Linked DNA regions of Homo sapiens: all the other regions are linked to region 3. The links come from fine-mapping of genetic effects on plasma protein levels. Region 3 holds a variant in brackets. A gene starts in each other region. All regions are shown on their forward strands. Distances are between the middles of the regions.

Region 1 (4,069 bases), not on the chromosome of region 3:
TGACTTTTTTAAGTCTGCACTAAAATTACTCACCAAAACCAATAGCAGGGTCCTCACTGCTGTTACTGAAAATGATTAACCTTTGATACACTTGTAATATCTGAGAAAAAGAAATGCAGGGGTCTCAGCAGGGCTCCCTTCTAAGGTCACTTGATTTCTAAAGAAGTAACCACTAGGTTTGAAGTCATCAGGATGTTAACTATGGGGATGGTTGGTTCAGTACCCAACATCCTGACAGCACATCTGACCATGTATATTGTATCGGAGACCACATCCTCAGCTCAGAAAAAGAGCTGAACTCATTTCAAATAGAAAGCACACTGCATACTGTTCCTCCAGGGACTGAGGTTGACTCTTCTTAGAGTGAGACATTCCCCAACATTGGAACAAAAATGACTCCCACTTCTTTTCTCACCTAAACCTGTTCAGAAGAAAGTAAGGAAGAAAGGCAGGAAGCAGGGGTCGGGGGGGGGCGGGGAGGGAGGGAAACTCGGAGATACTTTCAGTATCTAAAGTTGTGAAACTAGACAATCAGGAACGCACAATCAGAGGGCTGAAAAGGGCCAAGAGCCCCTACCCTCCTCCAGCCCATGTTCCCACACCTGCCACAGACCAGGCAGGAGCACAATAAACACTCACCACAAAGTGGGGAAGGAAAATCCAGGCAGGAGCCTCTATGTAAATAAATCTCCCTCCTGTCCTCAGCTTGCACTTGGCCTGCTAATTCTTATATAACCCAAGGAGACAGCTAGAAAGAATTTTGATTGGTGACCAATTTTGAGGACTTTTATTAAAATTCTAATTTAAGTCTTCGAGAGTTTCCAGTCATGGATACTACAGATAATATTGCAGATGATGAAAGCGTCTTCAAAATCATAGCTGAGACACTTTACAGTCTTCCCTGGTGTACTCTGATGGCAACAAGGTCCCTTGCCCCTCTCCTACCCTGTAGAATTCCAGCGCCCCCCTCAGCAGTCCTAGCAAAGGAAAGCCTGCCTGCTGGCAGTGAGCCATCATCCACCATTCTCACTTATTTGGATTTGGTTTCCTAATGCTAAACTTTGAAACTTGAAAAAAAAAATGAAAGGAAACCACATCCTTTTTACTCTCAGTATATAGATAGAGGCAGTTAAGAACTGAAAACAGATTTTCAGGTTGATTGATGTGGGACAGCAGCCACAATGAGGAACTCCTATAGATTTCTGGCATCCTCTCTCTCAGTTGTCGTTTCTCTCCTGCTAATTCCTGAAGGTAAGACTGATTCTTCTCATTTCCATTATGACCATGAAGCAAAATGGAGCAGACTTTCAATGAACTTTTGGCAATATTACCTTCCTATACTGAAAGAAGATGTTTTCCCCCAAGCCTTATAATGTTTAGCCAGGCACAATGGCACATGCCTGTAGTCCCAGCTACTAGGAACGCTGAGGTGGAAGGATCACTTGAGCGCAGGAGTTTGAGTCCAGGCTGGGCGACATAGTGAGACCCTGTCTCTATTTTTTTTTTTTAAATAGCATTCTTTCTTGGATTTTAAATATGTCTGTATTTTAGAAAAAAAAATCTTTTCTTCTCATAATTATTTTGCAAAAGATAGCAGAACCACCAATGCTTATTGCTGCCAATTTGTAACTTGAAAATTGCCAAAAAGGACAATGTAAAAATGAGTTAACAAAACTCTCTTGTTCGTAAAACAAATAGTACCTTCCAGGAAAGGAATAGTGGCAACTTAGTCAGCTCAGCCTTTCCTGCTGCAGAAAATGCATAGATAAAGACAATTAAGACAAATCTGACCTAGACACCAAAAGTGAATCAGGAATTATTAGAATTTTTATACTTATTTCTCTGGTCTAGAGACTCTTTGGCAATAAATTAAGGCGTGAGGCCAGTTCCCTCATTAACCCTTTGGGTGTGCTATAGTATTTTTTATTAAGCTAATTTTTTGTCTACCAAATGGTAACCAATATTTCTGCTTTTGTGTGAGTTGAGCATGCATGGGTTAAAATGCTGTATAATTCATGGTATTACCACTGAAAGGGTGACAGCTCTTGGGGAGCTCTAGATTTCCCTTGAAGAACCTGCTAGGAAGTGAGGACTACTCTCAAGCTGTGGCAATATGGAGCCAGCCACGGTTTTTCCCAGGATTCATCAGCTTTTGGAGGCAGGGACTTATGTAATAACCTGCCTTGCCAGGAATTCCCAAAGAACTCTGGTTTATCATATTTAGGTGCATATCTGGTTTATGCACCTAAATATGAGAAGACTTTGGGAGGCTGAGGTGGGTGTTTCACAAGGTCAAGAGATGGAGACCATCTTGGCCAACATGGTGAAACCTTGTCTCCACTAAAAAAACAAAAATTAGCTGGGTATGGTGGCACGTGCCTGTAATCCCAGCTACGCAGGAGGCTGAGGCAGGAGAATCGCTTGAACCAGAGAGTTGGAGGCTGCAGTGAGCTAAGATCGTGCCACTGCACTCCAGCCTGGTGACAGAGCGAGACTCTGTCTCAAAAAAAAAACAAAAAAGAGAGAGAGAGAGAAGAAATATAAAAATAACAAGGCTGCAGGACATTTGGGACAAAGGTTGGCTATGTTATAAGCAGGGCATAGTATGACTATATTCAGGCATGTTAAATCCTCCATAACAGAAAAACACAGGGCAGATAAATCCAGCCATATCTTTTCTTCAAAGGAAAACAACAAAAGCAACCTGCTGTGCTCCTCTTTGTTTCCTGTGTTCAGAGAGGGCAGTGTGGGCCCATATAAGGAACAGACAGCAAAGCAAGGCACAGTTGAAATCTATCTGTACATGAATCACCCTAGGAAAATTGGGATTGGGTGAAGGTCTTTTGTTTCTATAAGCTCTTTACCCTTTTGTTTCTAGAGCCTAGAATTTCTTCCTCCCAGTTTCCTTTTTAAAAGCAGAGACCTCTGCTTTTTCAAATCACACTAGCCACATTTCATGTGGTCACTCTCCTCCTTGCTCTTACCCTCATCAAATCTTACGAAAGGCTTCTATAGCTGTCATTAATACTTGCCTGTGAATTTGGCAATGACTTAGTCCTAATTATGGAACAAGAGGCACTGTGCCCTATTCAAGAAACCATGAGTCTCAGCAAAACTATTTTGGGAGAATCCAAGAACATCTGGTGCAGGAGGTGGAGCACTCGGAGTGTATCACTAAGACATAAGGTTCTCTCTATCTGCATGTATGGTTTGCCTTGTGTTTAGTTCTCACTGTTCCTTAACAATGGGTCTCTACTTCAAGACTATCATCAAGGAAATGTCACTTAGGCAGAATTCTTGGCATATGGTATCTTCTCTCTTCTCTTCCCTATCTCATTGGAAAAGACCTTAGATTAAACCCCATGGTTTGGTCTAGAGATTGAAGGGGAGGTGCAATCGATGTTATTTTCTTAACTTATGAGTGAGAACAGTGCAGTTTAATAACCAAAAGTCTCATAATGACCAAAGGACTGAGGGGTAGGGTCACAGCTAAACGATGCTAATATCGGTTCATAAGCTATATTTTTGCAATGGCTTGGGGTTAAAAGGGAAGTTATGAGGCTTCTAAAAGTCTTATCTATTTCCCCCAAATTAATAGTTAGCCAAAAAGGGTGGGAGCACTTGAGGTTGTCACTACCACTGGCATTTCCTGCAGCAACTGTTGATGGTAAAGACCAAGGCAGAGCTTTCTGCCCTGGGGCCTGAGGTTGCTGGTTTGTGACATCCAGCCTAATGATCCTGGAACAGTCAATGGCCTCGCTTCTGTGGGTGGAAAAACAGGACCCTAGAGTCCAACAGGAATAGGATTTGCATCAGATGTCTGCGGGTCTACATAGAGTAAAAGCAGGGGAAATGCTCTCATCCAGACTTCCTCTCTGAGTGCAAAAAGCATGGCTGGTCTTAGAAACATGACTTTGTGTAGAGCTCTTTGGGGGTGAGCACCAATCTGATTTGTCTTTTTCCATTGAACAGATGTCTGTGAAAAAATTATTGGAGGAAATGAAGTAACTCCTCATTCAAGACCCTACATGGTCCTACTTAGTCTTGACAGAAAAACCATCTGTGCTGG
Region 2 (4,080 bases), not on the chromosome of region 3:
TGACATTCTTCACAGAACTAGAAGAAAACTATTTTAAAATTCATCTGGAACAGAAAAATTAGCCCAAATAGCCAAGGCAATCCTAAGCAAAAAGAACAACACTGGAGGCATCACATTGCCCAACTTCAAATTATACTACAGTACTACAATATCCAAAATAACAAGGTACTGGTAAAAAAAAAAAAAAAAGCAGACACATAGACCATTGGAACACAATGGTCTAATGCAGACACATAGACCACTGGACAGAAAGCCCAGAAATAGTGCTGCACAACTACACCCATCTGATCTTCAGCAAAGCTGACAAAAACAAGCCATGGGAAAAGGATTCCCTTTTTAATAAATGGTGCTGAGATAACTGGCTAGCCACATGCTGAAGATTGAAAGTGGACCCCTTCCTTATACCATATACAAAGCTCAACTCAAGATGGATAAAATACTTATGTCTAAAACCCCAAAATATAAAAAACCCTGGAAGATAACCTAGGAATTACCATCCTGGACACAGGAATGGGCAAATATTTCATGACAAAGATGCCAAAAGCAATTGCAACAAAAGTGAAACAAAACAAAACAAACAAACAAAATAATTAACTGTAAGAGCTTCTGCACAGCAAGAGAAACTATCAACAGAGTGAACAGATAATCTACAGAATGGGAGAAAATTTTTGCAGACTATGCATTTGACAAAGGTCTAATATCCAGCATCTGTAAGAAACTTAAACCAATCAACAAGCAAAAAATAAACAACCCCATTAAAAAGTGGACTAAGGACATGAACAGATACTTTTCGTGTTTTATTTATCAATCTTAATTTACTTCTTATCCATTTGGAGTGTCAAATAATGGCCAAAGAAATTGTAATTATAAATTAAAGAACAAAATTTAGCAAGTAAAAATAAACAAAAATAACACAAAAATGTATTATCCTTTTACTTTTGTCATTAAGCAACAAATATATTTCTGATAATTTGTCAAATATTTTCTCCTTGAATTAATAGTTTATCTTATTTAAAAGGGTATATTGTGTTTTTAAAATTTTATTTTAAATTTGGGAGTACATGTGCAAATTTGTTACATAGGTAAACTTGTGTAATGGGGGTTTGCTGTAAAGATTATTTCTTCACCCAGGTATTAACCCTAGTACCCATTAGTTATTTTTCCTGATCCTTTCCCTCTTCCCACCCTCTATCCTCCAGTAGGCACTAATCATTAGGGAAATGCAAATTAAAACCACAGTAAGATACCATCTCATACCAGTCGAATGGCTATTATTAAAAAGTCAAAAAATAACAGATGCTGATGAGGTAGTGGAGAAAAGGGTTCACTTATACACCTTTGATGGGAGTGTAAATTAGTTCAACCATTATGAAAGATAGCATGGTGATTCCTTAAAGACCTAAAACCAGAAATTTGACCCAGCAATCCCATTACTGGTATATACCCAAAGGAATATAAATCTATCATAAAGACACATGCATGCATCTGTTCATGGCAGCACTGTTGACAATAGCAAAGACATGCAATCAACCTAAATGCCCATCAATGGTAGACTGGATAAAGAAAATGTGATACACATATACAAAGGAATACTATGCAGCTATAAAAAAGAATGAGATGATGTCCATTGCAGGAACATAGATGAAGCTAGAGGCCGTTACCCTTAACAAACTAATGGAGGAACAGAAAACCAAATACCACATGTTCTCACTAATAATTGGGATCTAAATGATGAGAACACATGTACACATAGAGGAGAATGACAGACACCGGAGCCTACTTGAAGGTGGAGGGTGAGAGGAGGGGCAGGATCAGAAAAACATAACTATGTAGTACTAGTCTGAATACCTGGGTGATGAAATAATATGTACAACAAACCCCTGTGACATGATTTTACCTATATAACAAACCTACACATGTAGCCCTGAACCTAAAAGTTAAAAAAAATCAAATTATACTGTTAAATTATTAGCATGATTTATAAACAATATTGTTTTAGGATAAAGAATTTAATTGCTTGGCAATTGCAAATTATTAAATTAAATATCAATATGTTAGGGAGGCTAATTCAAATGATATAAATATTTAGGCTATAACAAAAGGCAGCTATATATTATTAACCTCACCTCAAAAAGGGGCATAATTTCCATTCCCTTGACTTTAAGGGTAAATTAAGAGAAATTTGTAAAGCACTCAAAAGAATATTCAATTCAATATGTGGTGGACAGTTGAGAAATTATGTGTTATCTATGTCATGGGAAAGCAACTTTTAAAAAGAAAACATTTCCTCTGAGGTTTTCACAAATAAGTGAAACTGTGAACCCTCATATGTACTGTGAAAGGACAATTTGAGGAGCATCTCTGATTAGCAGCAGATTTATTATTCTTTCCTCATTTCATGTTATACTTAATAAAACAAAACATACCTGTATACACACACATTCACTCACATTGAAGATGCAAGATGAAGAAAGATACATGACATTGAATGTACAGTCAAAGAAAAGGAGTTCTGCCCAAACATCTCAACTTACATTTAAAGGTATGGAATTTAATTTCATTTTTTCAATTGGTGTGAATTAACATGGTAGTTTCCCGTATCCTGTTCCATTGTGTTATTGGACTGTTTCAGTATTTGGGTGCTTTTCTTTCTCCGTCTCTGTATCTCTCTCACCTGTCCTCTCTTTCAATATTAATAATGATTTAAAAATAACAACCTCTCTTACCATTTAAGAAACACCAGTTTCCGGCACTATACAGAATGTTTTATCTATGTTCCTTCATTTAATCTTACAAATTTACTATGAGATAATCTCTCTCTCTCCCATTTATCAATGTGGAACTAACACTTACTTGTAATATTTTGTCTGATATAATTTCTTAAGGACATTCTCTGAGGAAATATGCATACTCAATTAAAATTAATAATTTCAAATTAGTGAATATTTGCTGCCATTCACCTCCTTATCATTCATAGAATATGGTGTTTTAATGCTATTTTTTTTTTTTGAGACGGAGTTTCACTGTTGTTGCCCAGGCTGGAGTGCAATGGCATGATCTCGGCTCACTGCAACCTCTGCCTCCCAGGTTCAAGCAATTCTCCTGCCTCAGCCTCCTGAGTAGCTGAGATTATAGGTGCCCGCCACCATGCCTGGCTAATTTTTTGCGTTTTTAGTAGAGATGGGGTTTTACCATGTTGGCCAGGCTGGTCTTGAACTCCTGACCTCAGGTGATCCACCCACCTGAGTCTTCCAAAGTGTTGGGATTATAGGCATGAGCCACCGCGCCCAGCCTTTAATACTAATTTTTAATTCAACTTCTCAAAAACTTTATGCTTTTCACCAAGTTGACTCAAAATAAAGTTTATACACCAGCAATCAACATTTTAATTTGCTACTTCAAGCATACCCTCCATACACAATGCAATTCCATCATGCCACCTTAATGTGATTTGGCAAAAGAGATAAGCAGAAATTAAAGACACAAATAATCACAGTTATAGAGACTGTCTGTTCTGTTCTGTTGCTTTCTAAATATTTCTCTTTTAATAACTTCACCCATGAAAATTTTACTTATCTCTTGAGTCCTTCCACAAGTATCATCCATCAGTGATTCATCTTAGAGTTACATACGTGCTATGTATAAGAAATTTATTGCCTCTTCCATGTGAATTTTTAGATTCCCATATTTTCAAGTCTTTACTTCCTACACTCAATTTTTATTTCATTTTTGGAAATTAGAGATATTAAACCTGAAAGACTACAACATGTAGTGACTTCTCTGCAGACTTTTTTCCACACTCTGTTCATAAATGTCTCTCTGAAGCAAAAATGTGCAGATTTTCGGCTCCCAGATATTTAAGTGACACATACTAATATTTATGTCTTGTACCTTTAGCTAATATTTATTAAAGCTTGAGGTAAGACGTATTTTATGTGAATTAGATTGACAATGTGAGCCTTGGGGTTATGATGTTCATTCATTTAACTTAATTTTGTGATGACATATTTGTAAATCTTTTCTCATATATTGAAAAACCTTTGTTGCCAGTGATAGTAAGAAATTACATAATTGCTCTAT
Region 3 (4,000 bases):
TCTTAATATTAAACATCATATAAAAAACTTTTTTTAAACATTGTACAACATGTATAGTGAAGTATATCACACAATTCTACATGCCTAGTCCATGGTGACTAGTACAGTATCATATTCTAGTACAGGTTAAGCAGCCCTAATACAAAAATACAAAACATTTTGAGTGCTGACATGACACTCAAAGGCCATGTTCAAAGGAAATGCTTATTGGAATATTTCAAGCTATACATTTTCAAATTAGAGATGCTCAAGTGGTAATTATAGTGCAGATATTCCAGAATCCATAAAATTCTGAAATGTGAAATACTTCTGGTCCCGTGAAGCTCAGATAAGGGATACTCAACCTGTACGCGGTAAATACTGATAGATAGCTGGTCTAGGAAATTGTTACTTCGGCCAGGTGTGGTGGCTCACGCCTGTAATCCCAACACTTTGGGAGGCTGAAGCGGGCGGATCATGAGGTCAGGAGTTCAAGACCAGCCTGGCCAACATGGTGAAACCCCGTATCTAAAAATACAAAAATTAAGGTTGGGCACAGTGGCTCATCCCTGTAATCCCAGAACTTTGGGAGGCCAAGGCGGGTAGATCACGAGGTCAGGAGATTGAGACCATCGTGGCTAACACAGCGAAACCCCGTCTCTACTAAAAATACAAAAATTAGCCAGGCGTGGTGGCGGGCGCCTGTAGTCCCAGCTACTCAGGAGGCTGAGGCCGGAGAATGGTGAGAACCCAGGAGGCGGAGCTTGCAGTGAGCCGAGATCATGCCACTGCACTCCAGCCTGGGCGACAGAGCAAGACTCCATCTCTTAAAAAAAAAAAAAAAAAAAAATACAAAAATTAGCTGGGTGCAGTGATGCACACCTGTAGTCCCAGCTACTCAGGAGGCTGAGACAGGAGAATCACTCGAACCCAGGAAGTGGAGGTTGCAGTGAGCCAAGATCGTGTCACTGCACTCCAGCCTAGGTGACAGAGTTAAAAAAAAAAAAAAATTATTACTTCAAAAATTCATAGTAAAATATAAAAATACAAGGTCAGGGTAAACAACAAATAAAAAGGATCCTAGGAGCATTTTTTTTTTTTTTGAGATGGAGTCTTGCTCTGTCACCTGGGCTGGAGTGCAGTGGCGCGATCTTAGCTCACTGCAAGCTCCGCCTCCCAGGTTCACGCCATTCTCCTGTCTCAGCCTCCTGAGTAGCTGGGACTACAGGTGCGGAGCAAAATATGTATTAACGGAACTATAAATTCCACAGAATTAAAAAAATTTTTTTTTTACAAAATGGTTGAGTTCACGCCCTCAGGGTGGCTCAGGTGAATTTGGTGGCTACACAAATTTAAAAACGGGCCGGGCGTGGTGGCTCATGCCTATAAATAATCCCAGCACTTTGGGAGGCTGAGGCGGGTGGATCACCTGAGGTCATGAGGTCAAGACGAGCCTGGTCAACATGGGGAAACTCCGTCTCTACTAAAAATACAAAATTAGCCAGGCGTGGTGGCACACACCTGTAATCCCAGCTACTCAGGTGGCTGAGGCAGGAGAATCGCTTTAAACCAGGAGGTGGAGGTTGCAGTGAGCCAAGATTGTGCCGCTGCACTCCAGCCTGGGTGACAGAGCGAGACTCTGTCTCAAAAAAAAAA[T/A]AAAATAAAATAAAATAAAACAAAGAACACGTGAAAAAAAAACCCAAAAATAAAACCCAAAACAAATCCAAACCAAAAAGAAAACCTTCCAAAGACAAAGTAGACAGCCAATGAGTTTTAACAACTGAAACATTTCTTACTGGCTGCAAGGGCTGAGGCTGCCCTGGTGCAACTATTGTAGTCACTGCTGCGGCTGGCTGTACCACCACTCCTTGTGGATGAGCTGTGAAAATCTGTTGCCCCTGGATATACTGAAGACTTGGCTGGGCATAACTCTAAAAGATAAAATGAAGAAATCAATAATTTAAGCTTTTGTCACTTTAATAAACAGACTGACTTCCAAGTTGGCACAATCTTAAAGATATACCCATAACATTTTAAAATTTTTTGTTTATATATTTGGACATAAATGTGCAAAACAATTTTTTGTTTCAAACCCCAAAGTTTCTTTTTTTACTAATTCCCTATTCATTTACTTACTTTGATTTTACTTTATCATAAGAAAATAAAAGCTTTTTTTTTTTTGGTCATAGAAATTCTCCAACTGTTTAGCTTTCAATGACATTGGAATGACATTGAAAATTAAACAGGTGGACAGTTTCTATAAGCAAAAACCAATGAAGTGCTGCTCCTGGGATATCCAAGAAACAATGCCACGCTGCTCTTTTCAGGAAGGCTTTTGCTACCAACTTGTAATAACAAACAGGTTGTTTGGATCAGAAAAGGTCAAAGGGTGTGAATCATAGTAAATAAGATGATCAAATTTTAAGCTACCTTTTGTTTTAGCTTTTTGTAGTCTTCTATGATAAAACCCCTTGGCAGAAAGCAGAATCAATGCATCTGAAATTCTCACAACACACCAATTTATACAGTGTTCTATGATGCAAGAAGCCCCTTAACATACATCATCTCATTTAGTGCTGACCACCATCAAAACCAGGTACTGCCCATGCCTGGAGTTTCATAAGAAATAAGTACTATGCTAGGGCTTAAACCTACTCTGTAATTATTTCTCAAGCATAGAAAATCTGCTTAAATAAGAAGAGGTGATAAGAAGACTGAAAAATAGCCTTGCTGTCCTAAGAGGTGGTGACTGTTAAGGAATTGAATAGACATGTATCCTGTGCTTAAGGAGAGATTTTGCTCCTATGGACTGAGATTCTAGCAGGTAAAATGATTACAGAAACATCAAATGCTAAGTACTCAAAATACAAAATATAATTCCAAATGACACCAGTAAAAACTCAAGTAGTCTGAATAGGCAATGCAGCTATCTAGCAGGTTTCTGAATGAATAATTACTGACAGGACACAGGAAAAAGGAAAAGAACACTTAATTTGGTATTCTGGATCAGCTTAATCTACTTGGATAATAAACCAGACTGAAAAACATTAATTGTTAAGGCAGAATTACCATCAGAATAGTATCACAAAGCCTGAGAGGAAAATGTACAGTCATGTATTGCTTAACAAGGGGGGTACATTCTGAGAAATGCATTGTTAGGAGATTTCATTGTTGTGGTAACATCATATAATGTACTTTCACAAACCTACTAAGTGTATGAGGTACTTACACATCATACAGTGTACTTCACAAATCTATTAGATACCTAGGCTATATGGTATAGTCTGTTGTTCCTAGGCTACAAACCTGTACAGCATGTTTCTGTAATAAAGACTTGTAAGCAACTATAACTTAACAGTATCTGTGTATCTAAACATGGAAAAGTTACAGTAAAAATACAGTATAAAAATTTTTTAGGCCGGGGCACGGTGGCTCACACCTGCAACCCGAGCACTTTGGGAGGCCAAAGTGGGCGGATCACGAGGTCAGGAGATCGAGACCATCCTGGCTAACACGGTGAAATCCCATCTCTACTAAAAATACAAAAAATTAGCCAGGCATGGTGGCATGCACCTGTAGTCCCAGCCACTCAGGAGGCTGAGGCAGAAGAATCGCTTGAACCCAGGAGGTAGAGGTTGCAGTGAACCGAGATGGCACCACTGCACTCCAGCCTGGGCAACAGAGCGAGATGCCGTCTCAAAAAAACAAAATTTAAATGGTACACCTGTATAGGGAACTAACTATAAACAAAGCTTGCAGGACTGGAAGTTGCTTTGAGTAAGTGAGTGGTGAGTGAGTGAATATGAAGGCCTAGGACATTACTGTACACTACTGTAGACTATAAACACTTGGGCTACACTAAGTTTATTAACATTTTTTTAATAAATTAACTGTAACTTACTATAACTTTTTTACTTTATAAACAAATTTTTTCAACTTTTTAACTCTTTTATAACACTTATCTTAAAATACAAACACATTCTACAGCTGTATAAACAACCCTCCTCCCTCCTCCTCGCCA
Region 4 (4,080 bases), 75 Mb after region 3:
CTAAACATTTATTGTTTTAAGGAAATAAATTTTGAGATAATTTGTTATACAGCAATGGATAACTAATAAATACTAAAAACTCCTAAATGTATATACTAAATATATTAATTAGAAAATTGTAATATAAAAATACTAAAAGCTAAAACTGTCTGATATTAGGAAGATAATTTTACTACAATATATACCTTTTTTGTGTGTATGAGACAAGGTCTCATTATGTTGCCCAAGATGTTCTCAAACTCCTGGGTTCAAGCAATCTTCCCACCTCAGCCTCCTGAGTAGCCAGGATTACAGGTATGTGCCATTACAGCCAGCTTTCACAGTGTATACTTGATGTACTATTAATGTACTATTTAATGACTACTAAAAAGTTTATGATAACAGGAGAAAATGCTTATGCTATCTTAAATAAAAATTTGAGTGTATGCATTGATACCAAGAAATGGAAATTTGAGTGTGTACACTGCTACCAAGAAACTGAAAAATGACATCCCATACCTTTAATATTTAATATTTATAACAAATGAGGTTTACATGGATTTTTTTATCTCATCTTATTTCTGATGTGTTATGTAGTTATAAATACTATTTTATTTGCACTCCTGCTCTGCAATAATTTTGAAGATAGATAACTTATATTATTGCTGTCTTCATTTTTTAAAATTCTCAAATCCAGATGAAATTATCAAAGTTGATAAAATAATCATTGTTCTATCTTCTTATTTGAAGATTAATAATTGTGTTGATTTTGCTTCCTTGCTCTAGTTAGCAGTGATGTCATCTGCTATTTTTAAACTTCCTTGAAATAATATATGTAATCTACTTCTAATAAGTTTTTCTTATTTAGCATTTTGGTCTAAACTAATTTATAATTATTTAGCCTTATTTCTCCATGTTTAACTTGCTTTAAAGCTCAGCACTGGTGTTTTCAGCCATGGCTTCTCCATTTTAAGGCTATTTTAATTCATTTATTATTCTGGAATATATCCTTAAATAATTTATTTAGGAAGGCTGTCTTGGTGGTGGTATTTCTGTTGCAGTTGTTGTTTTCTTGCCTGCTTGGTGACATATTTCTATTGACTTGACACTTAACTGGCATCTTATCTAGGTAGATAATGCTAATTCAAAATTCTGCAGATATTGTTCTGTTGTTTTTTGCCATTTAGGGTTGAGTAAGATGCCAAGTTGTTTTTTGTTTCTCTGTAGTCATTCTGTTTTCATTTTGTTTTTAGCTTTGCCTTTGGAATTTAAAATGTTCAAAATGATTTGTCTGGATGAGAATCGATTTTCATAACTTTTGCTTTGATACACTAAACAGTTTGAGTTTCTAGATGATGCCCATTTTAATTCATACGAGGAAATATCTTCTAGTATAGTTTCTGCTTGATTAATTCTATGTTTGTCTCTTAGGGACATCTATTAATTTTATAATGCTGCCTTTTTTTCAGACTTCTGTTTCAGAATATTCGCTTTCATCAATGTAATCCTTGGCTATAGTAGGAATGAAATAATAAAAGCAGTAGCTTCTGTCTGCCCTCCTTGGTTATGCAGTCCTTACAGAACATCTCCCCATCTCCCATCCCCCCACCCCAGCTCAGTGAAACTCTCCACACTTTGGTTGTGGAAATTGGCAGGGTTAGGTGGCTACTCACTCCCAATCCACATCCACAATAAATCACTTTTTATTATCTTATCAAAATCTGTAGAATGCCTCTTTATTCTATTTTGTTGCTGCGGAGGTTTGTTTTCTCTTTCTAATTATTTTATTTTCTAGGTTTTTTGAGGGAATTTCAAGAGGGGAGATTTTTTATTCAGGCTCATCTTAACGTCATGTCTGGAACTCAAGCTACTGAATTATATATTCTTTAATACATATAGACCTACGTCAATGAGTTTAAACTGCAAGGAAAGGGTTAAATTTCTTCCTCAAGTGTGGTCAAAATCTGTAGAGAAAAGAGGAACAGCTTCTCTTAAAGAAAGTTAGCTGGGTAGGTATACAGTCATTGCCGAGGAAGGCTTGCACAGGGTGAAAGCTTTGCTTCTCTGCTGCTGTAACAGGGACTAGCACAGACACACGGATGAGTGGGGTCATTTCCAGATATTAGGTCACAGCAGAAGCAGCCAAAATGGATCCCCAGTGGTGAGTAATAATTCTTATTCTTTGCAGAGAAGTTATGAGTTGTGACTGCAGTGAAAGGCTGAGGTTGAAGATGGTGCTTTGATGTGTGTCCTTCACTTAGTTCCTAAGTGGAGAAGCTTTCTTTTTCTACAAAAGATCTTTGGCACATAAAGGCAAGAATTATTTGCAATGCCCAAAGCAGTTCATTGGTGGTAGTTATATATATTTTTAGGTGCCTAATTTTGGTTTTGTAAATCTGTTATTCAAATACTGAATGTTACAGTCATTGATTTTAGTGAAGAATCAGGAATTTTTAAAATATCTGCATAAGAATGACAAATAACAGGGAATATGTTTTTTGTCTACCAGGGTCAGTTTGGTCTGAGGGTGGAGGAATGAGATAGAGAAGGTAGAGGGAGAGAGATCAAGAAAAAGAAAGAGAAAAAAGAGGTATAAGGAGAAAATGCAAAACTCAGTTAATATGTCATAATCAGGCCATGGGAGATTCTGGGCAGGGTTGGGTAGTGGAAGGAGGTAGAGTGATTAAATTAGTTACCATGTATTGAACATGCATGATGTGCTGGGTACTTTACTAGTGCTATTTCATTGAATTTTATTCTTCACAATGACTTTTGGAAAGACATCATCATTCTTTTTGACAGATGGGGTAACTGTGGCTTAAAAAACTTGCCCAAGTTCACACTATTCATAAGGGGTAGAGCTAAAATCTTTCCTGCCCGCTTCGTGGTGCGCCAGAAGGTTTCTCCATGCTGTGGAGACTTCCTGGAAGGAGTCACACCCGCCCTTCTCTTGGGTGGTGGCAGCTGGCGCCAGTCACTATGTATTTATTTATTTTTAATTATTTATTTTTGAAACAGAGTCTCGCTCTGTCGCCAAGCTGGAGTGCAGTGGCGCAATCTCAGCTCACTGCAACCTCCGCCTCTCGGATTCAAACGATTCTCCTTCCTCAGTCTCCTGAGTAGCTGGGACTACAGGCGCCCACCACCACGCCCGGCTAATTTTTGTATTTTTGGTAGAGACGGGGTCCACCATGTTGGCCAGGATGGTCTCGATCTCTTGACCTTGTGATCTGGCCACCTCGGCCTCCCAAAGTGCTGGGATTACAGGCGTGAGCCACCGCGCACCCGGCCGTCACTATGTATTTATAATTACTGTTCTTTGAAAATCGAAGTAACTTTCATCTACCCAGTGCTTACTGGTTTGAGAAAAAGCTTTGTTGCTTTTATTTCAGAAGATTAAAATTTAATTTTCCAGTAAAGATTCCTTTTGCTCCAGTGGAATTTTGAAGCGTTATACTTGTATGAAGAAAAAAAGAATTTCAAAATTTATAATTTTTGTGGTACCATAGAGGGGATACTACTTAATTATGCTAGCACTGTCTGCAGAGGTCTAAAAAACCATAGGCTGCTGTCTATATTGAACTTGTTAAGATTCCTTTTGTTTCACAGTGCCTGAAGATTGGTCATGAACCAGTAATAGCCATTAAACAATGTCTGTTCTCATAAGAGATGAAATAAATACAAATTAAAACAACAGTGAAGTATCATTTTTTCTCTATCAAAGAGATAAATATTAAGTTTTAAAAAGCAAGCAATCAAGAACCCTCTATCTTGCTAAGAAGGGAGGATTATTTGTACCCTAGTTGCGCACTAGTGGTGATATCATCTTTCTGGACAATAATCTAGTGATACATATCAAAAGCCTTTAAAATGTATATGCCCTTTAACCAAGCAATTCACCTTTTAGGAATTTATTCTAAGATATAATAATACATGTTTGTAAAGTTTTAGTGATGGATATTTTTCTTGCTATTGTTTCTAATAAGGAAAATCTTAGAAACAATTTACGTGTTTAAAAACAAGTGATTGGATGATTATGGAACATCCATAATGGAATACCATGTAATTATTTAAAATTCCACTGTAGAACAATTCATAATG
Region 5 (4,080 bases), not on the chromosome of region 3:
AATTATTTACTGATGATTAATATTTACTTAAAAGCCTTTTTTAAACTTTTATTTTTGGTTCAGGGGTGCATGCGAAGGTTTGTTACATATGTAAATTCATGTCACGGGGGTTTGTTGTACAAAAGCCTTTTATAAATTAAATGATAATATGAATTATATTTTATAGGTAAAATTAGACATTGATTGCGCATGTAATACCTAACTCAGTTATTTTACATATGGAGTAAAGAGAGTAGGTATCACTTTATGGATGAAGAAATTGAATGCTAGAGATGGCCAAAATCATAAAGCTTATTTAATATAATGTTACCAACTGTGAATAAGTTATAAATTTATAAACACCTTTAGGATAAAAAGTGCTTTAACATACATGTCAGTTGATTTGAATATTACACAAATCTAAGATAAATATGGAATGTTTCATGCCTGTATTTGATAGAAAAAGAAACTAAACTAAACTACACAGAGGTTGCAAATTGACCCTTCAAATCTAGAGAGCGGTAAAAGTTTGAGTAAAATTCAAGTCTGACTCCACATCTATTTCACTATTTCAAGCTGTCCCAAGTTGTGAGCGACTTTACCATAATATAGTTAATAAAATAAAGGGAAAAAAGTTTTTAAGTTTTGGAAGACTTGATTTAAAATACAATATGAACATAACATGAAATCAACATAAATAGAACATGAAAAGAATCAGAGTAAATTGCTTGCCTATGCCTTATATGCTTGTATGAAATTCTTGGTATCTTAAAATTGTATAAAAACAAAACTACACACTTATGTGGTAAAAACATACCCCAGCTGTGTCGAGACCTCCGACCACGAATCCACCCCATCAAATACTTATAAGTGCACGTCTACCGCAGAGAGGAATCTAAAGTCTTCAATGCACAAAGGATTCCTGAATAAAATAAAACTGGGCATTTGTTTTTTGTTCTCTTTCCCGTGGTGAGATAAAATATTTTGAATAGAAAAGTAAAATGCAGAAACTTTTCCCCTGTGCATGCCTTTAAGAAAAGAATAGAAATGACAATTCACATAAAGCCAGGCAAAATTAATTTTATACATTTCTCTTGGTTGTAAAATAATCGCCAATTACTTCAAAATGTCATAACAATATAATGAACCTATTAATTCACCTACATTGAGATATTTAATACCAATATTTTACTTTACTGATATTAGATAACAACACACCCAGTTTTCTGTTTATAGTCGTTTATTGCTTCTTGGCCTTTTAGCTAAGATCAAGTGTTTCCAGTTGTTTATTTTATCTGGCAATAATTTAGTTTTCTTTCTGCAAGCTAAACTCAGGTAAGTTATATGCACTTTTGTTGAATGTCCTTTTCTAGTGCATTTTAATCCAACGTGCCCATATCATCATCATCAACAAATTATCATCACCATCATCATTAACAAAACTAATCTCACATGTTTATATAGTAACATCTTAGCAATGCACAGCAGAGCTTCCAGAAAAAACCATTTAATAAATAAGCATAGTGCTTAGATTTCAAAAATAAAAGCTATTTCATATTTGATTATGATAGTTGGAAAGCACAGATATAACTTGTTTCACCTTGCATGTAAAGATGTGTATCAAAGGTAAGTGCCCCCTACAGCATCAGAAAACTCAAAAATTTGACAATTTAAATTGAATCTCAATTCTTCTCATCCTAAATGTAAAGATTCATTTTTCTAGTTTTGCTTAGAGACAAGGCTTCTTCTTATAGTAATATTACAACTTCTGATTCTTCAATAAGTATATCCTAATTACCTATCATCAGATACAGTGATAGAATATACATCAGAAATGATAAGCATTCCGTATCCTCAGGAGTTCTATTCAAGCATCTAAGAAACAATTAGAATTACCTTATAGTGTAAATATTTTTATTTTTTTGAGGTTGAAATATAATTTCTCATATCTTGAATAATAAACACACACACATACACACATACACACACCTGCTCAGAGAGGGAAGATCTTGATTCTTGTGGATAAAAGCCTTCTATAAAACTAGAAAATTTAGATATGTCCTCAGTTCCTGATCTAGAATTGAAAGTGGAGATACTTAGTGAATTTCTATCTTTGAGAAAGATGTGACAAATATTATAATCTCATCTTCCTGTGGAAAAACATAAACCACAGTACTTCCGCCTTATCACTACAAAAATATTGTTAATTTGGTAAAAGAGTTAAGACCACCCATTGTTGGATAAATGTTAGGTTGGTGCAAAAGTAATTGTAGTTTTGCCATTATTTTAAATAACATTTTAGGATTTGAAAATGATGAATTTAAATGATGCCATTTAATCCTAAATATTTTAGAGATTCAATTCAATTCCAGTTAATACCTCAGGTTTTGTTGTAGAACTTACAAAGCAGAATTCTACATGTACATTAAATTACAAAAGTCAAGACTAGGAAAGTCACAATTGAAGATGAAGAAAATGTGGGAGCCTTGTTTTACTAGATAGTAAGACCTATGTTAAAACCGTATTAATAAAGGCAAAGTGGCATGTGGGGCATAGATAGACAAATTGAGAAGGGTAAAAATACAGACAAGAAAAAGTCATGTGCATAGATTAAAAAATATAAGGTAACATTGCAGATAAAGTGGGAAATTAGCTCCTATTCAATAATTTGTCCTGGGTTACTATCACACTGGCCTTTAAGTTACAAAAAATTAGTCCTGGGAATTTTTAAATTTTAATATAAAAAACATGAAATTGCATCTCTGTCATATCTACATCATATGCAGGAGAATTAGAAACTTAAATATATACCCCAGTATACATAAGAATAATATATGAATTGATACCAATGAACAAGATAAGCTAAATATATATTTTATGTTTATTAATTTAAAATACTAACATAAGACATCATATAAAGTAATATAAGATGAACACATTATAACATTTTAACAAAAACCAAAGCTATTAATCTTAAAACTCTGAAATATAAGGAAGGAAAACAGCTTTCATGTGGTGATGTGTTAAAGTTGGACAATAAATTTATTCAACATTTTTTTTCTTTAGCGAATGCTATTTGCTATGCACTTTTCTAGATCTTGAGAATGTCAAAGTAAACAATCCAAAAGAAAGTTTTTGCCCACATGGAAATTAATTACTTTTTTTTTTTTTTTTTTTAAGAGATGGAGTTTCACTCTTGTTGTCCAGGCTGGAGTGCAACGGGGCGATCTCGGCTCACTGCAACCTCCGCCACCTGGGTTCAAGCAATTCTCCTGTCTCAGCCTCCAGAATAACTGGGATTACAGGCATGTGCCACCACACCTGGCTAATTTTTGTATTTCTAGTAGAGACGAGGTTTCACCATGTTAGTCAGGCTGGTCTCGAACTCCTGACCTCAGGTGATCCTCCTGCCTCAGCCTCCCAATGTGCTGAGATTACAGACGTGAGCCACCACACCCAGCTGGAAATTACTTTTTAGTTTAGGTGATATAAAATGAATAAGTATAAAACAAATTCAAAATTAAACAAGATAGGTGAATATAAAACAAGTTGAAGAAAATATGTTATTTTCTGACATACCAAGATTCTTTTCAGCTAATCAACATTTTCTATTAGCTATTTTATATAGTAAAAATAGATCTATATAGAGGAAATATAGGCTGATATTTTCTAACAACTACATTTTAACAAATATTTGGTTTTTGAAAGGAAATGAATAAATGAGTAAATGCAGGCTTTTTATGGGAAAAACCTGAATCACAATTTCCTGAAGAGTTATTTTTATATATGTAGTTTTCGATTGAATAGAGATTGTCTCTTAAATACAGAATTGAGAAAAGGGGGATAGGAATAGGATAAAAAAGAACATTTGAATATCCTACCTATTTCGTTTAGTTCAAATGGCAACTTACAGCCAACTGGGAAGTCCCCACACATACCTAAAAGAAGATTTCTGAAATAAATACCATGATAAAGCTAAGCACCAGGGAGAGTTTTATTGTCATATATAAAGGTCCCTAAACCAACTGACAGAGTGTGGAAAGGATTCTTAAAGAAGAAAATTCTAAAATGGGTCCTGTATGTCGGGTTAAAACAATTAGT
Region 6 (4,069 bases), not on the chromosome of region 3:
GGAAATGTAATAGGAAAGGGAAAGTGGAACGCAATAAAGGTTATTTTCTTAATCTAGCTTCTAGAGGAGGTGACTGGAACATAACACTATTGAGTAATTCTGGGAACTGGGCAAAACACAATGTTCAGAATTACCTGACTTTAGGGCTGAGACTGCTGGACTGTATAGCAAATCACAAGATTCGTTTGTTGACGCCCATTCTGGTGATGATTATTCAGCACTTCCGGATTAGCATGTCTGAGAACAGCAAGGCTTTCAGCAGTTATTGGAGAAAAAAAGAACCCATAGATACAGCTATACAGATAACTAGTTGGCCATAGTTCCCCAAATATTCCAAGGGACATAGGCGAGGCAATGATAACTTCAGGAACAAGTGGAGATGAGTGGGAGAGATACAGTACATGGAAATCATTCACCTGTCTACGTACAAAAATAAATAGAAAGAACAGAGGCCGGGCACGGTGGCTCACGCCTGTAATCCCAGCACTTTGGGAGGCCGAGGCGGGCGGATCACGAGGTCAGGAGATCGAGACAATCCTGGCTAACACGGTGAAACCCCGTCTCTACTAAAAAAAAAAAATACAAAAAATTAGCTGGGCGTGGTGGCGGGAGCCTGTAGCCCCAGCTACTCGGTAGGCCGAGGCAGGAGAATGGCGTGAACACGGGAGGCGGAGCTTGCAGTGAGCCGAGTGAGCCACTGCACTCCAGCCTGGGTGACAGAGACTCCATCTCAAAAAACAAACAAACAAAAACAAACAAAAAAAGAACAATCAGAGTTGGCAGCTCAGAAAGAGTTAAAGAGGTATATACATATATGTTTACTGTGTGTGTGTATGTGTGTGTGTGTGTGTGTGTTTAGGTATCTTAAATATTTAAGCCTGGAGTTCTTGAAGTAAACTTGTATTTGTTGGATTTTTATTTCTAAGTCAGTGAACTAAGATGAAAAAAAGGACAATGACTGATGGACGTATTCTCACCAAACAGGGTTCTAAAAACTTAGAACCTCTAACTTCCAAATAAAGGTGGTTGTGTTAGTAATGAAAGTGTAGTAATAATCCCTATTGCACATTCTGTCATAAATTTGTACTCTCTCAAGAGAAAAACTAAAAGCAAACCCCTAATCTCCTATATTTTGAGGCAATTTTACATGGGGGAAAAATAGTATCAGACAGGTTTCTTCCAGACCAGCTTTTTCTAACACTAAAAATGAATAGATTTCAAGTAAGCAAAGGATTTTTAAATAAATCACTTCAACTAAGATTTGCATACAGTCTGGATGAAGTAGATTTTACGCTTATATTCTTCAGTGAGGATTTATAGCTCAACAAATTTGTTGGTGCAATGAAAGCAGCTCTAGGCACACAATGCAAACTGAAAAGATGGAAAGTTTTGACTTCATAAAAACTGAGAAGTCAAAGTAGTCTTTTCTTTCATTTTTTTCTGTTGTTGGTTGAAAGCCCATCTTTTACAAAAGGGTTTATCTATAGTAATATTATAATGCTTGAACATAAACAATATACAAAATATAATACACAAAACGTTTATTTGAGTGTCTGCTTTTGTATGGGGGTGCATGGTAGATTGTATTTCCAGATACTAAATCATGGATCGAAATCTCTCCTTTCAAGATTCTTATTATAGCCAATCTCTTCCACATTGGAAATTTGACCTGTTCCACATTTGATATTCCTATTAACAAGGTTACTCTTCTGTAGATGAAAAAGTGTATATCGAAGTATCAGTATAGTATCTGAATTAGATAACACACTAAACAATATAATAATGTATTAGTAAAAATAAGGAAAATAAAGAAGCTGAAGTCGTGCTTAAAGAACTTTAAGAAAATGAAAATTGAGGTGTTGAAAAAAGCTTTTAAGGCTAACGTGAATGAGGCGTCCAAGTGGGAAACCCATCCAGTTCTACTTTTTTGAACTTTGCCTGTCGTGGCCAGGATAATTAGGTAGAGATCAGAAGAACAGAGTGAGACATGGAAATCCCAATTTATGTGACCTTGGGCAAATTACTTAGCTCTGTATGCCTCAGTTTTCTCTTTGATAGATTGAAGATATTTATATATCTTTACTATCAAGCCATTTACAGAAATAAATGAGCTAAGATATGCCAAGTGCTTTAAATTGTGTTAAGTACAAGGTAAATAATAAATGTTTATTATTAAAAGAGGAAAATTCTGTAAGTAATTTTGTTATGCTAAGTAAATTTACCTTTGGTTTGCCCATCATTTCCTTCATTTTCCAGATAACCCTTTAAAATGAATTTGATTTTCAAACAATAAAAAACAAAACAGCAACAAAACTCCCTCTGACCTCCTCTCACCTTCTTTAGTCCTTGCCAAAGTGTTAATATTGCAAAAGTACTGTGAGAATTTCCTGTATTGTGGTTCCTGGAACACTTCAGAGGCTTGTGATTCTACTGCTTCTTATTCACACTATAATACATGTCTCACCAATAGATGATTCAAGAACATCATTTAAATACACAATTTTTCATTCTCTATTTTTGCTAAATTTCTTCATACTCAACTTTCAGATTCTTTAATCTCCAGCTCAGCTTCAACAATTCAACGCTGTTCTTTCTGAAAAAGTACACATCGTGCCTTCTCTACTTCGCTCTTGGAACATAATTTCTCATGGCAGGTATGTGTGATTTCAGTCACTAAATTAAAAATAACCAGAAAAGCTATTTCTTGGATTGGCTGATTTTGGGGTAATGCTTTAAGAGAAAAGGACATGATTAACAGTGGATGTTTTTAGGATTTTCATGCATTAGCACTTTCCACATTCATTATATTTTCCTGATTCTTCATTGTATAACTTAGACATGATTTCATGAAGTTTTTTCCACAGGTTTGAAGAGTGGTTTCTGACAGGGCTACCTTTAAATTCTGAGTGAGAACTGAACTTTAGCCTGGTTAAATTGTGAGCAACAGTGTTCTAGTATAGCAATAGAAAATGCCAAATATTAATGACACAATGCTGAAAAGGTTTTAATTGACTATTTATGTTGTGACATCCAAAAATTACACAAATGAACAGTTTGACACATTGTACTGTTGTTAATGACATCACTCTTTGAGAGTGTGTTCACGTTAGCACAGAATCTCCTAATGTTGAAATGTTTTAGGTGAAAGGCCTAAAAGCAAGTAATTTTGAGTATGAACAAATGGAATGTTCTAGGGGAAAAAGGATTGTTTATGTATGTTCAATATACTGTGAAATGAAGCCAGGCCTCAAAGTTGTTACCCATCAATTTGTTATCAGTTATCACACCAAGTCCAGAATGTTCCTATGTCTTCTTTTCCCTATAATATCTCTACGAACCAATGAGCAGCTAGACATTTATCAGAGCAAAACCTGCACTGAGATGAGGAGAGGGCATACTCTCAACTAGTATTATTGTGACAATGGTAGACTACGTTGAATGAAAGATTCTTGAGCTAGACACACTTTCATGTGATTTCTGACTTGGATACTTACTTGCTTTGATACCTTGAGAAAATAACATTATTATTGGACCTTATGTTTTCTCATCTATGTAATGAGAACCATACTATCTATCTTGTGATTTTGTTGAGAGAATAAAAATAAATGCCTGTTATGTAAGTCCATAAAACACAACGTGGTGCTTGTTAATATCTTCTACCTCCAGATCTTTAAGCACCTCTGCCAATTTAAAATAAATGGTAAATTCACTTTACTGCAACAGAGCTGGTAGAGAAGAAAATGTTTGAATAATCTTCCTGAAGAATAAGATACATCACATAAAAATGTTGGTATTGGGTGAAGTCCCGATTGGAAAGTCTTCAGTGTTTTATTGGCAAGATGACTCCGTTATCAAATGAAAGAATGTTGTGGATTCTCCGTCACTAGTTTCTGCTTTTAAGAACTCAGCTCCTGAGTTTGCTCTTTAAGTCATTACTCTGTCTGTCTTTCTCTACAGTGTTTAAGACCACTCTGTGGAGGTTAATTTCTGGGACCTTAGGGATAATATGCCTTTCGTTGATGTCTACGTTGGGAATTTTGTTGAAAAATTGTAAGTTTTTCTAAGCAAG
Region 7 (4,080 bases), not on the chromosome of region 3:
GGGAGGCTGAGACAGGTGGATCACCTGAGGTCAGGAGTTCAAGACCGGCCTGGCCAACATGGTGAAACCCCATCTCTACTGAAAACACAAAGTTAGCGGGCATGGTGGTGTGCACCTGTAATCCCAGCTACTCGGGAGGCTGAGGCAGGAGAATTGCTTGAACCCGGGAGGTGGAGGTTGCAGTGAGCTGAGATTGTGCCACTGCACTCCAGCCTGGGTGAGAGCAAGACTCCCTCTCAAAAAGAAAAACAAAAGGCGGGGGGAGGGGAGAAGCATGAATAATCCACCCTTTGTTTAGCACATCATCAGGAAATAACCATAAAAATGGGCAACCAGCAACCCTTGGTGCTGTGCTGTCTATGGAGTAGTCATTCTTTTTATTCCTCTACTGTCTTAATAAACTTTTTACTCTATGGACTCGCCCTGAATTATTTCTTGTGCGAGATCCAAGAACCCTCTCCTGAGGTCTGGGTCAGGACCCCTTTCCTGTAACAACATGGTCCTATCCCAGCTCCCTGTCTGATGTCACCTCACTCTGTTCCAGACTGACTCTTCTCCACCAAACACACCAAGCACACTCCCGCTCCAGGACCTTTGCAGTGGCTCTTCTGCTTGCAAGTCTTCTCCCCACAACCACGTGGCTCATTACCTCCTTTTCTTTGCCAAAAGAACTGCCCCAGCAAAGAGGCCTTTCCTAATAACTTTATGTAAAACAACACCTCGTCCCTTCATGCTTTGTCTGTAATGTGCTTTACTTTTCTTCATAGCACTAATCACCACCTGACATCATTTATATTTATTTGTTCACTTATCTTCTGTCTCCTTCACTAGAATCTGAGCTCCATGGGGGCAGGGATTCTTGTCCATGTTGTTTACTACTGTACCTCCGGTGCCGGCACATAGTAGGTGTTCAATAGGTATTTATGGGATGGATGACTCAAACCTTTCAGTGAATAAACAGTTCAGTGTTCTCATCAATCCATCCTGGTGCCCACCAAGCTAATAATATCACGGTAACAATGGCAGCTAATTTTACAGGAGCATTTCCTATGGGCCAGACCTTAGAAACGTTATCTCCTTACACAGGGCACTGCATTCACGCCTAGAACACTGAAATTTAGGTATAATCATGAGCTCAGAGGTCAGGCGACTTGCTCGAGGTCATAGGGGACGGCATCAGAAGAGGAACACAGACATTTAGCCTGACGGCAGAACTGTGTTCTAAAACCTCAAAGTCATAATTTGCCACACGCTGGAGAAAGAAAACAGTCGAAATGGAAGCCACCTGGCGAGCTCAGGGCGCCAGGTGGGAGCGCTGCTTCCCACATATGGGAGTCCGGCCCCATCGCTCTTTGATCTTTGCAGCGTCCGTGGCCCCACCGACCCCGTCGTGAGTTATGGGAGGCACGGGACCCATAACCCAGCATTCTCAGACTCCCAGGGTCGTCAGGACACGGCGCCCCGCGCGGTGATGGATGAGCCGGCCCCAGCGCTGGCTTTGTCCGGGTTGGGCCGGTCTGAGAAGCTTCAGGCCGGCTTTGGACGGGGCGTGGCGAGAGCCGCGCCGCGTGTGAGTGTGTGTGTGTGTGTGTTTGTGTGTGTGTGTATTGGGGCGGTTGTCTTTCTCCCTTCCCTACCGGGAAAGAGGGCACAGGTGCGCCGTCAGCGCCCCAGGTGAGCTGGTAGCACTTTGAAGACCCTTTGTACCCCTACATCCAGGAGCGACCTCTCGGAGAACCCCGCCTGCCCACTCTGCGCACTTTCTGCGGCTACAAAGGCCCCGCCGTTCCCCGTCCCGCCTCCCCCGCCCTGGGCATTTCTTCCGTCCCTTTTGACAGTCTAGGCGGAATAATCCTTTTGTGGCCCCGGGCCCCTGCCCTGACAGACGCGGCCGCAGCTGAGCGCGCAGCCTCGCTCCATTGTTGGGGTCCACCGAGGACCGCCCGCCGCGGCCCTTTGTCGCCCGCCCTGCGCGGGGCCGCTCCAGAGGCGCCACAACTGCCGGAGCCCCTCCCGTCCCACGCGCCCTGGGCCGCGCCGAGGCGGCTCTTACGCACCGGGAGGAGTGGGCCTGCCTCGCCCGGTGCCCGCACGGCTGCTGGGCTGCGCCCGCCTTTGTCTGCCTCCTTTGTCTGCCCCGCGCCCTCGCGGCGGCGGCGCCTAGGCCTCTGGGGAGCTGGCCCAGAACTCAGAGCGCAGCTGGCGAGGGCGCGCTGGCCGGGTGCGCGCCGGGCCCGGCCCCGGGGCTGCCCCTCGGCTGGGGGCAGTCGAGCCCGCCACCCGCCGCCCCTCCTCTGTCCCCTCCCCGCGCTCCCGCCCCCTTCCCTCCTGCCCGCCCACTCCCCCTTCCTTCCAGTCCCGCTCAGCCCGGGCACATCCTCCGGCTGCCCGCGCACCTCTCCACGCCGGCCCCGTTCCGCGGCTCGCCCTCGGCTGCGCTCGGCTCCCGCGGGCGCTCGGCCCCGAGCCCCTCCTCCCCCTACCCGCCGGCCGGACAGGTAAGGCACGGCCTCGGCCCGCCCCTGGCTCCGCCCCTCCCGCCCCACCTGGCTGCGAGCCCGGACAAAGGTGGGCTACCTGGCGCGCCCAGGGGCGGGGTGCGCGGGGTCCCGAGGCTGGAAGTGAGGATGCTGCCTCCTTCCCAGCCCTCGGACCCGTCTATCCGCCAGTCCTTCCGCCGCCTCCTCTCCTCGCCGCGTCTGCCCACGGACCCTGGCTCTGCTCCCGGGCTCCCCATCCGTCCACCTACCGCTGGACGCCCACTTTTCCACGCTCTGACACTCGGCCTCGCGCGCGCCCTCGCCGCCCTCTGGGGTCCCGGCTCGCACCTACTCTCCTCGGCACTAGCCTTCTCTCTCCCTGACCCAGTCTCCCTTTGTCTCTCTGTCTCTGAGTCTCCGGGTGGTCTCTCAGGCAGGGGGCCCCAGTCCGCCACCGTTGGAAGAAGTCTTCGAAGACTCCCTGAGCCCCGGGCAGAGCTGGCGGGCGTGCCCTCCAGCCCCTTTCGAGGCCGCCCAGGAGGCTGGGGTGTGTGGCCGGGGTCGCTGAGTGCGCCCGGAACCAGCACCGCCGGTGGCCCCGCGCCGTCCCATCTGTGCCCAGGAAGGTACTCAGCCTGGCTCCCCCGACGGCGCTGGTCTTTCGCCTGTGGTCTCCCGCTCTGTCCCTCCTGCTCCCCACCGCCGGCTTTTGGCTTTTCTCCGTCCGCTCGTCAAGGGTCTCAGCCGCCTTCGGGGCCGGGGTATGAGATGAGAGAGGGCTGGGGTTTCCCGCCAAGTCTTTCTTGCTTTCCTCAGCTGGGTGCTCCCTGGGCCATCCTCTCCGCCCGGTGGTCTCCCCTGCCCTATATGCTCCCTCCACGCTGCCCACCTCCCAGCCCAGTGACACACTGGTGTCTGGAACCGGTTCAGTACTATGCATCTGGAGTCGGGTACACTGGGGCTCTGGGAGTGATCTCGGACAAAGGAATGCACCTCTCTGAGCCTCAGTGTTCCTGTCACAAAACAGGGATGGTGCTAGTCCCTACCTATAGGGATGTGTGTGGAAATTGTGGGGTGCCGCTTGGTGCTGGTTCACACACCCTGTGGAGGAAGGGAGGGGAGGGGAGGGGAGTCTACAGACCTGGGATGGGGTGGGGACAGGGGGCTCCACAGAAATGGATCTCAAAGTCAAGGCTTAGAGACACTTCAGAGTAACCCCACCACCACAGCCTCTTCCCCCATCACACTTCCTGTCACCTTCACCTCCTCGTGCCCATACAGGCGTCCACACCCTTGCAAGCACTCTTCTCTTTCTCTCTCTCCTCCTCTTTGCTTGTCCTAAAATCAGCTAAAACAATCAGGGCCAATGGGTCACTTTTTTTCAAAATGAGATCAGTGTGGCTGAGCTGGTGTTGCCAACAACTGATCACCCATCAGAAGGCGTCCGGTGACTCACCCCCAATTCTGAACCTCAGTCTTGGCTTGATGCCTTTAATAGCGGCACCAGCTCACAGGCCACTTCCTTTCCTCTGAGGGGATTGTCTTGCTGGCTCCTGGACCTGCTGTGTGCTTGCCCAAGCCCCCTGACCACTGTCTAGGT

Which allele goes with the higher level. Positions count from the first base shown, and alleles are read on the strand shown. Strength reflects both the effect of a copy and how common the allele is.
With allele T in place of A in region 3, the plasma level of the protein whose gene starts at base 1,145 in region 1 is higher (weak association).
For the plasma level of the protein whose gene starts at base 2,394 in region 2, allele T in region 3 goes with a higher level than allele A (weak association).
For the plasma level of the protein whose gene starts at base 1,999 in region 4, allele T in region 3 goes with a higher level than allele A (weak association).
With allele A in place of T in region 3, the plasma level of the protein whose gene starts at base 2,067 in region 5 is lower (moderate association).
For the plasma level of the protein whose gene starts at base 2,440 in region 6, allele T in region 3 goes with a higher level than allele A (moderate association).
With allele A in place of T in region 3, the plasma level of the protein whose gene starts at base 2,355 in region 7 is lower (weak association).

Evidence for each region. PIP is the posterior inclusion probability: the model's chance that the variant is causal. The UK Biobank Pharma Proteomics Project read protein levels with antibody pairs (Olink). The fine-mapping took linkage between variants from a reference panel, not from the people measured, so its PIPs are less certain.
Region 1: it holds the start of GZMA, and the variant in region 3 is fine-mapped to the plasma level of the GZMA protein (UK Biobank, PIP 0.92).
Region 2: KLRF1 starts here. The variant in region 3 is fine-mapped to the plasma level of the KLRF1 protein (UK Biobank, PIP 0.99).
Region 4: CD86 starts here. The variant in region 3 is fine-mapped to the plasma level of the CD86 protein (UK Biobank, PIP above 0.99).
Region 5: it holds the start of KLRK1, and the variant in region 3 is fine-mapped to the plasma level of the KLRK1 protein (UK Biobank, PIP above 0.99).
Region 6: KLRD1 starts here. The variant in region 3 is fine-mapped to the plasma level of the KLRD1 protein (UK Biobank, PIP above 0.99).
Region 7: DRAXIN starts here. The variant in region 3 is fine-mapped to the plasma level of the DRAXIN protein (UK Biobank, PIP above 0.99).

What each region holds. Positions count from the first base shown.
Region 1 is chr5:55,101,502-55,105,570 of GRCh38, forward strand. It overlaps GZMA (granzyme A), which reads left to right and starts at 1,145. Exons shown (of 5, transcript NM_006144.4): 1 at 1,145-1,251; 2 at 3,973-4,069. The coding sequence starts at 1,182.
Region 2 is chr12:9,825,088-9,829,167 of GRCh38, forward strand. It overlaps KLRF1 (killer cell lectin like receptor F1), which reads left to right and starts at 2,394. Exons shown (of 6, transcript NM_016523.3): 1 at 2,394-2,542. The coding sequence starts at 2,458.
Region 3 is chr3:47,044,712-47,048,711 of GRCh38, forward strand. SETD2 (SET domain containing 2, histone lysine methyltransferase) reads right to left here. Exons shown (of 21, transcript NM_014159.7): 16 at 1,776-1,910. Among named protein-coding and RNA genes, the nearest start is that of NBEAL2, 67 kb to the left of the region's middle. The variant T/A (reference allele first, on the strand shown) is at 1,636.
Region 4 is chr3:122,053,364-122,057,443 of GRCh38, forward strand. It overlaps CD86 (CD86 molecule), which reads left to right and starts at 1,999. Exons shown (of 7, transcript NM_175862.5): 1 at 1,999-2,140. The coding sequence starts at 2,127. It also overlaps a transcript of ILDR1 not described here.
Region 5 is chr12:10,387,975-10,392,054 of GRCh38, forward strand. KLRK1 (killer cell lectin like receptor K1) reads right to left here and starts at 2,067. Exons shown (of 8, transcript NM_007360.4): 1 at 1,969-2,067; 2 at 797-901. The coding sequence starts at 836. It overlaps KLRC4-KLRK1 (KLRC4-KLRK1 readthrough), which reads right to left. Exons shown (of 13, transcript NM_001199805.1): 6 at 3,861-3,917; 7 at 797-901. The coding sequence starts at 836. The region is part of intron 3 of KLRK1-AS1 (KLRK1 antisense RNA 1); the gene reads left to right.
Region 6 is chr12:10,305,431-10,309,499 of GRCh38, forward strand. KLRD1 (killer cell lectin like receptor D1) reads left to right here and starts at 2,440. Exons shown (of 6, transcript NM_002262.5): 1 at 2,440-2,654; 2 at 3,958-4,050. The coding sequence starts at 2,648.
Region 7 is chr1:11,689,356-11,693,435 of GRCh38, forward strand. It overlaps DRAXIN (dorsal inhibitory axon guidance protein), which reads left to right and starts at 2,355. Exons shown (of 7, transcript NM_198545.4): 1 at 2,355-2,498. It also overlaps a transcript of MAD2L2 not described here. RefSeq lists enhancers at 653-1,162, 1,163-1,670.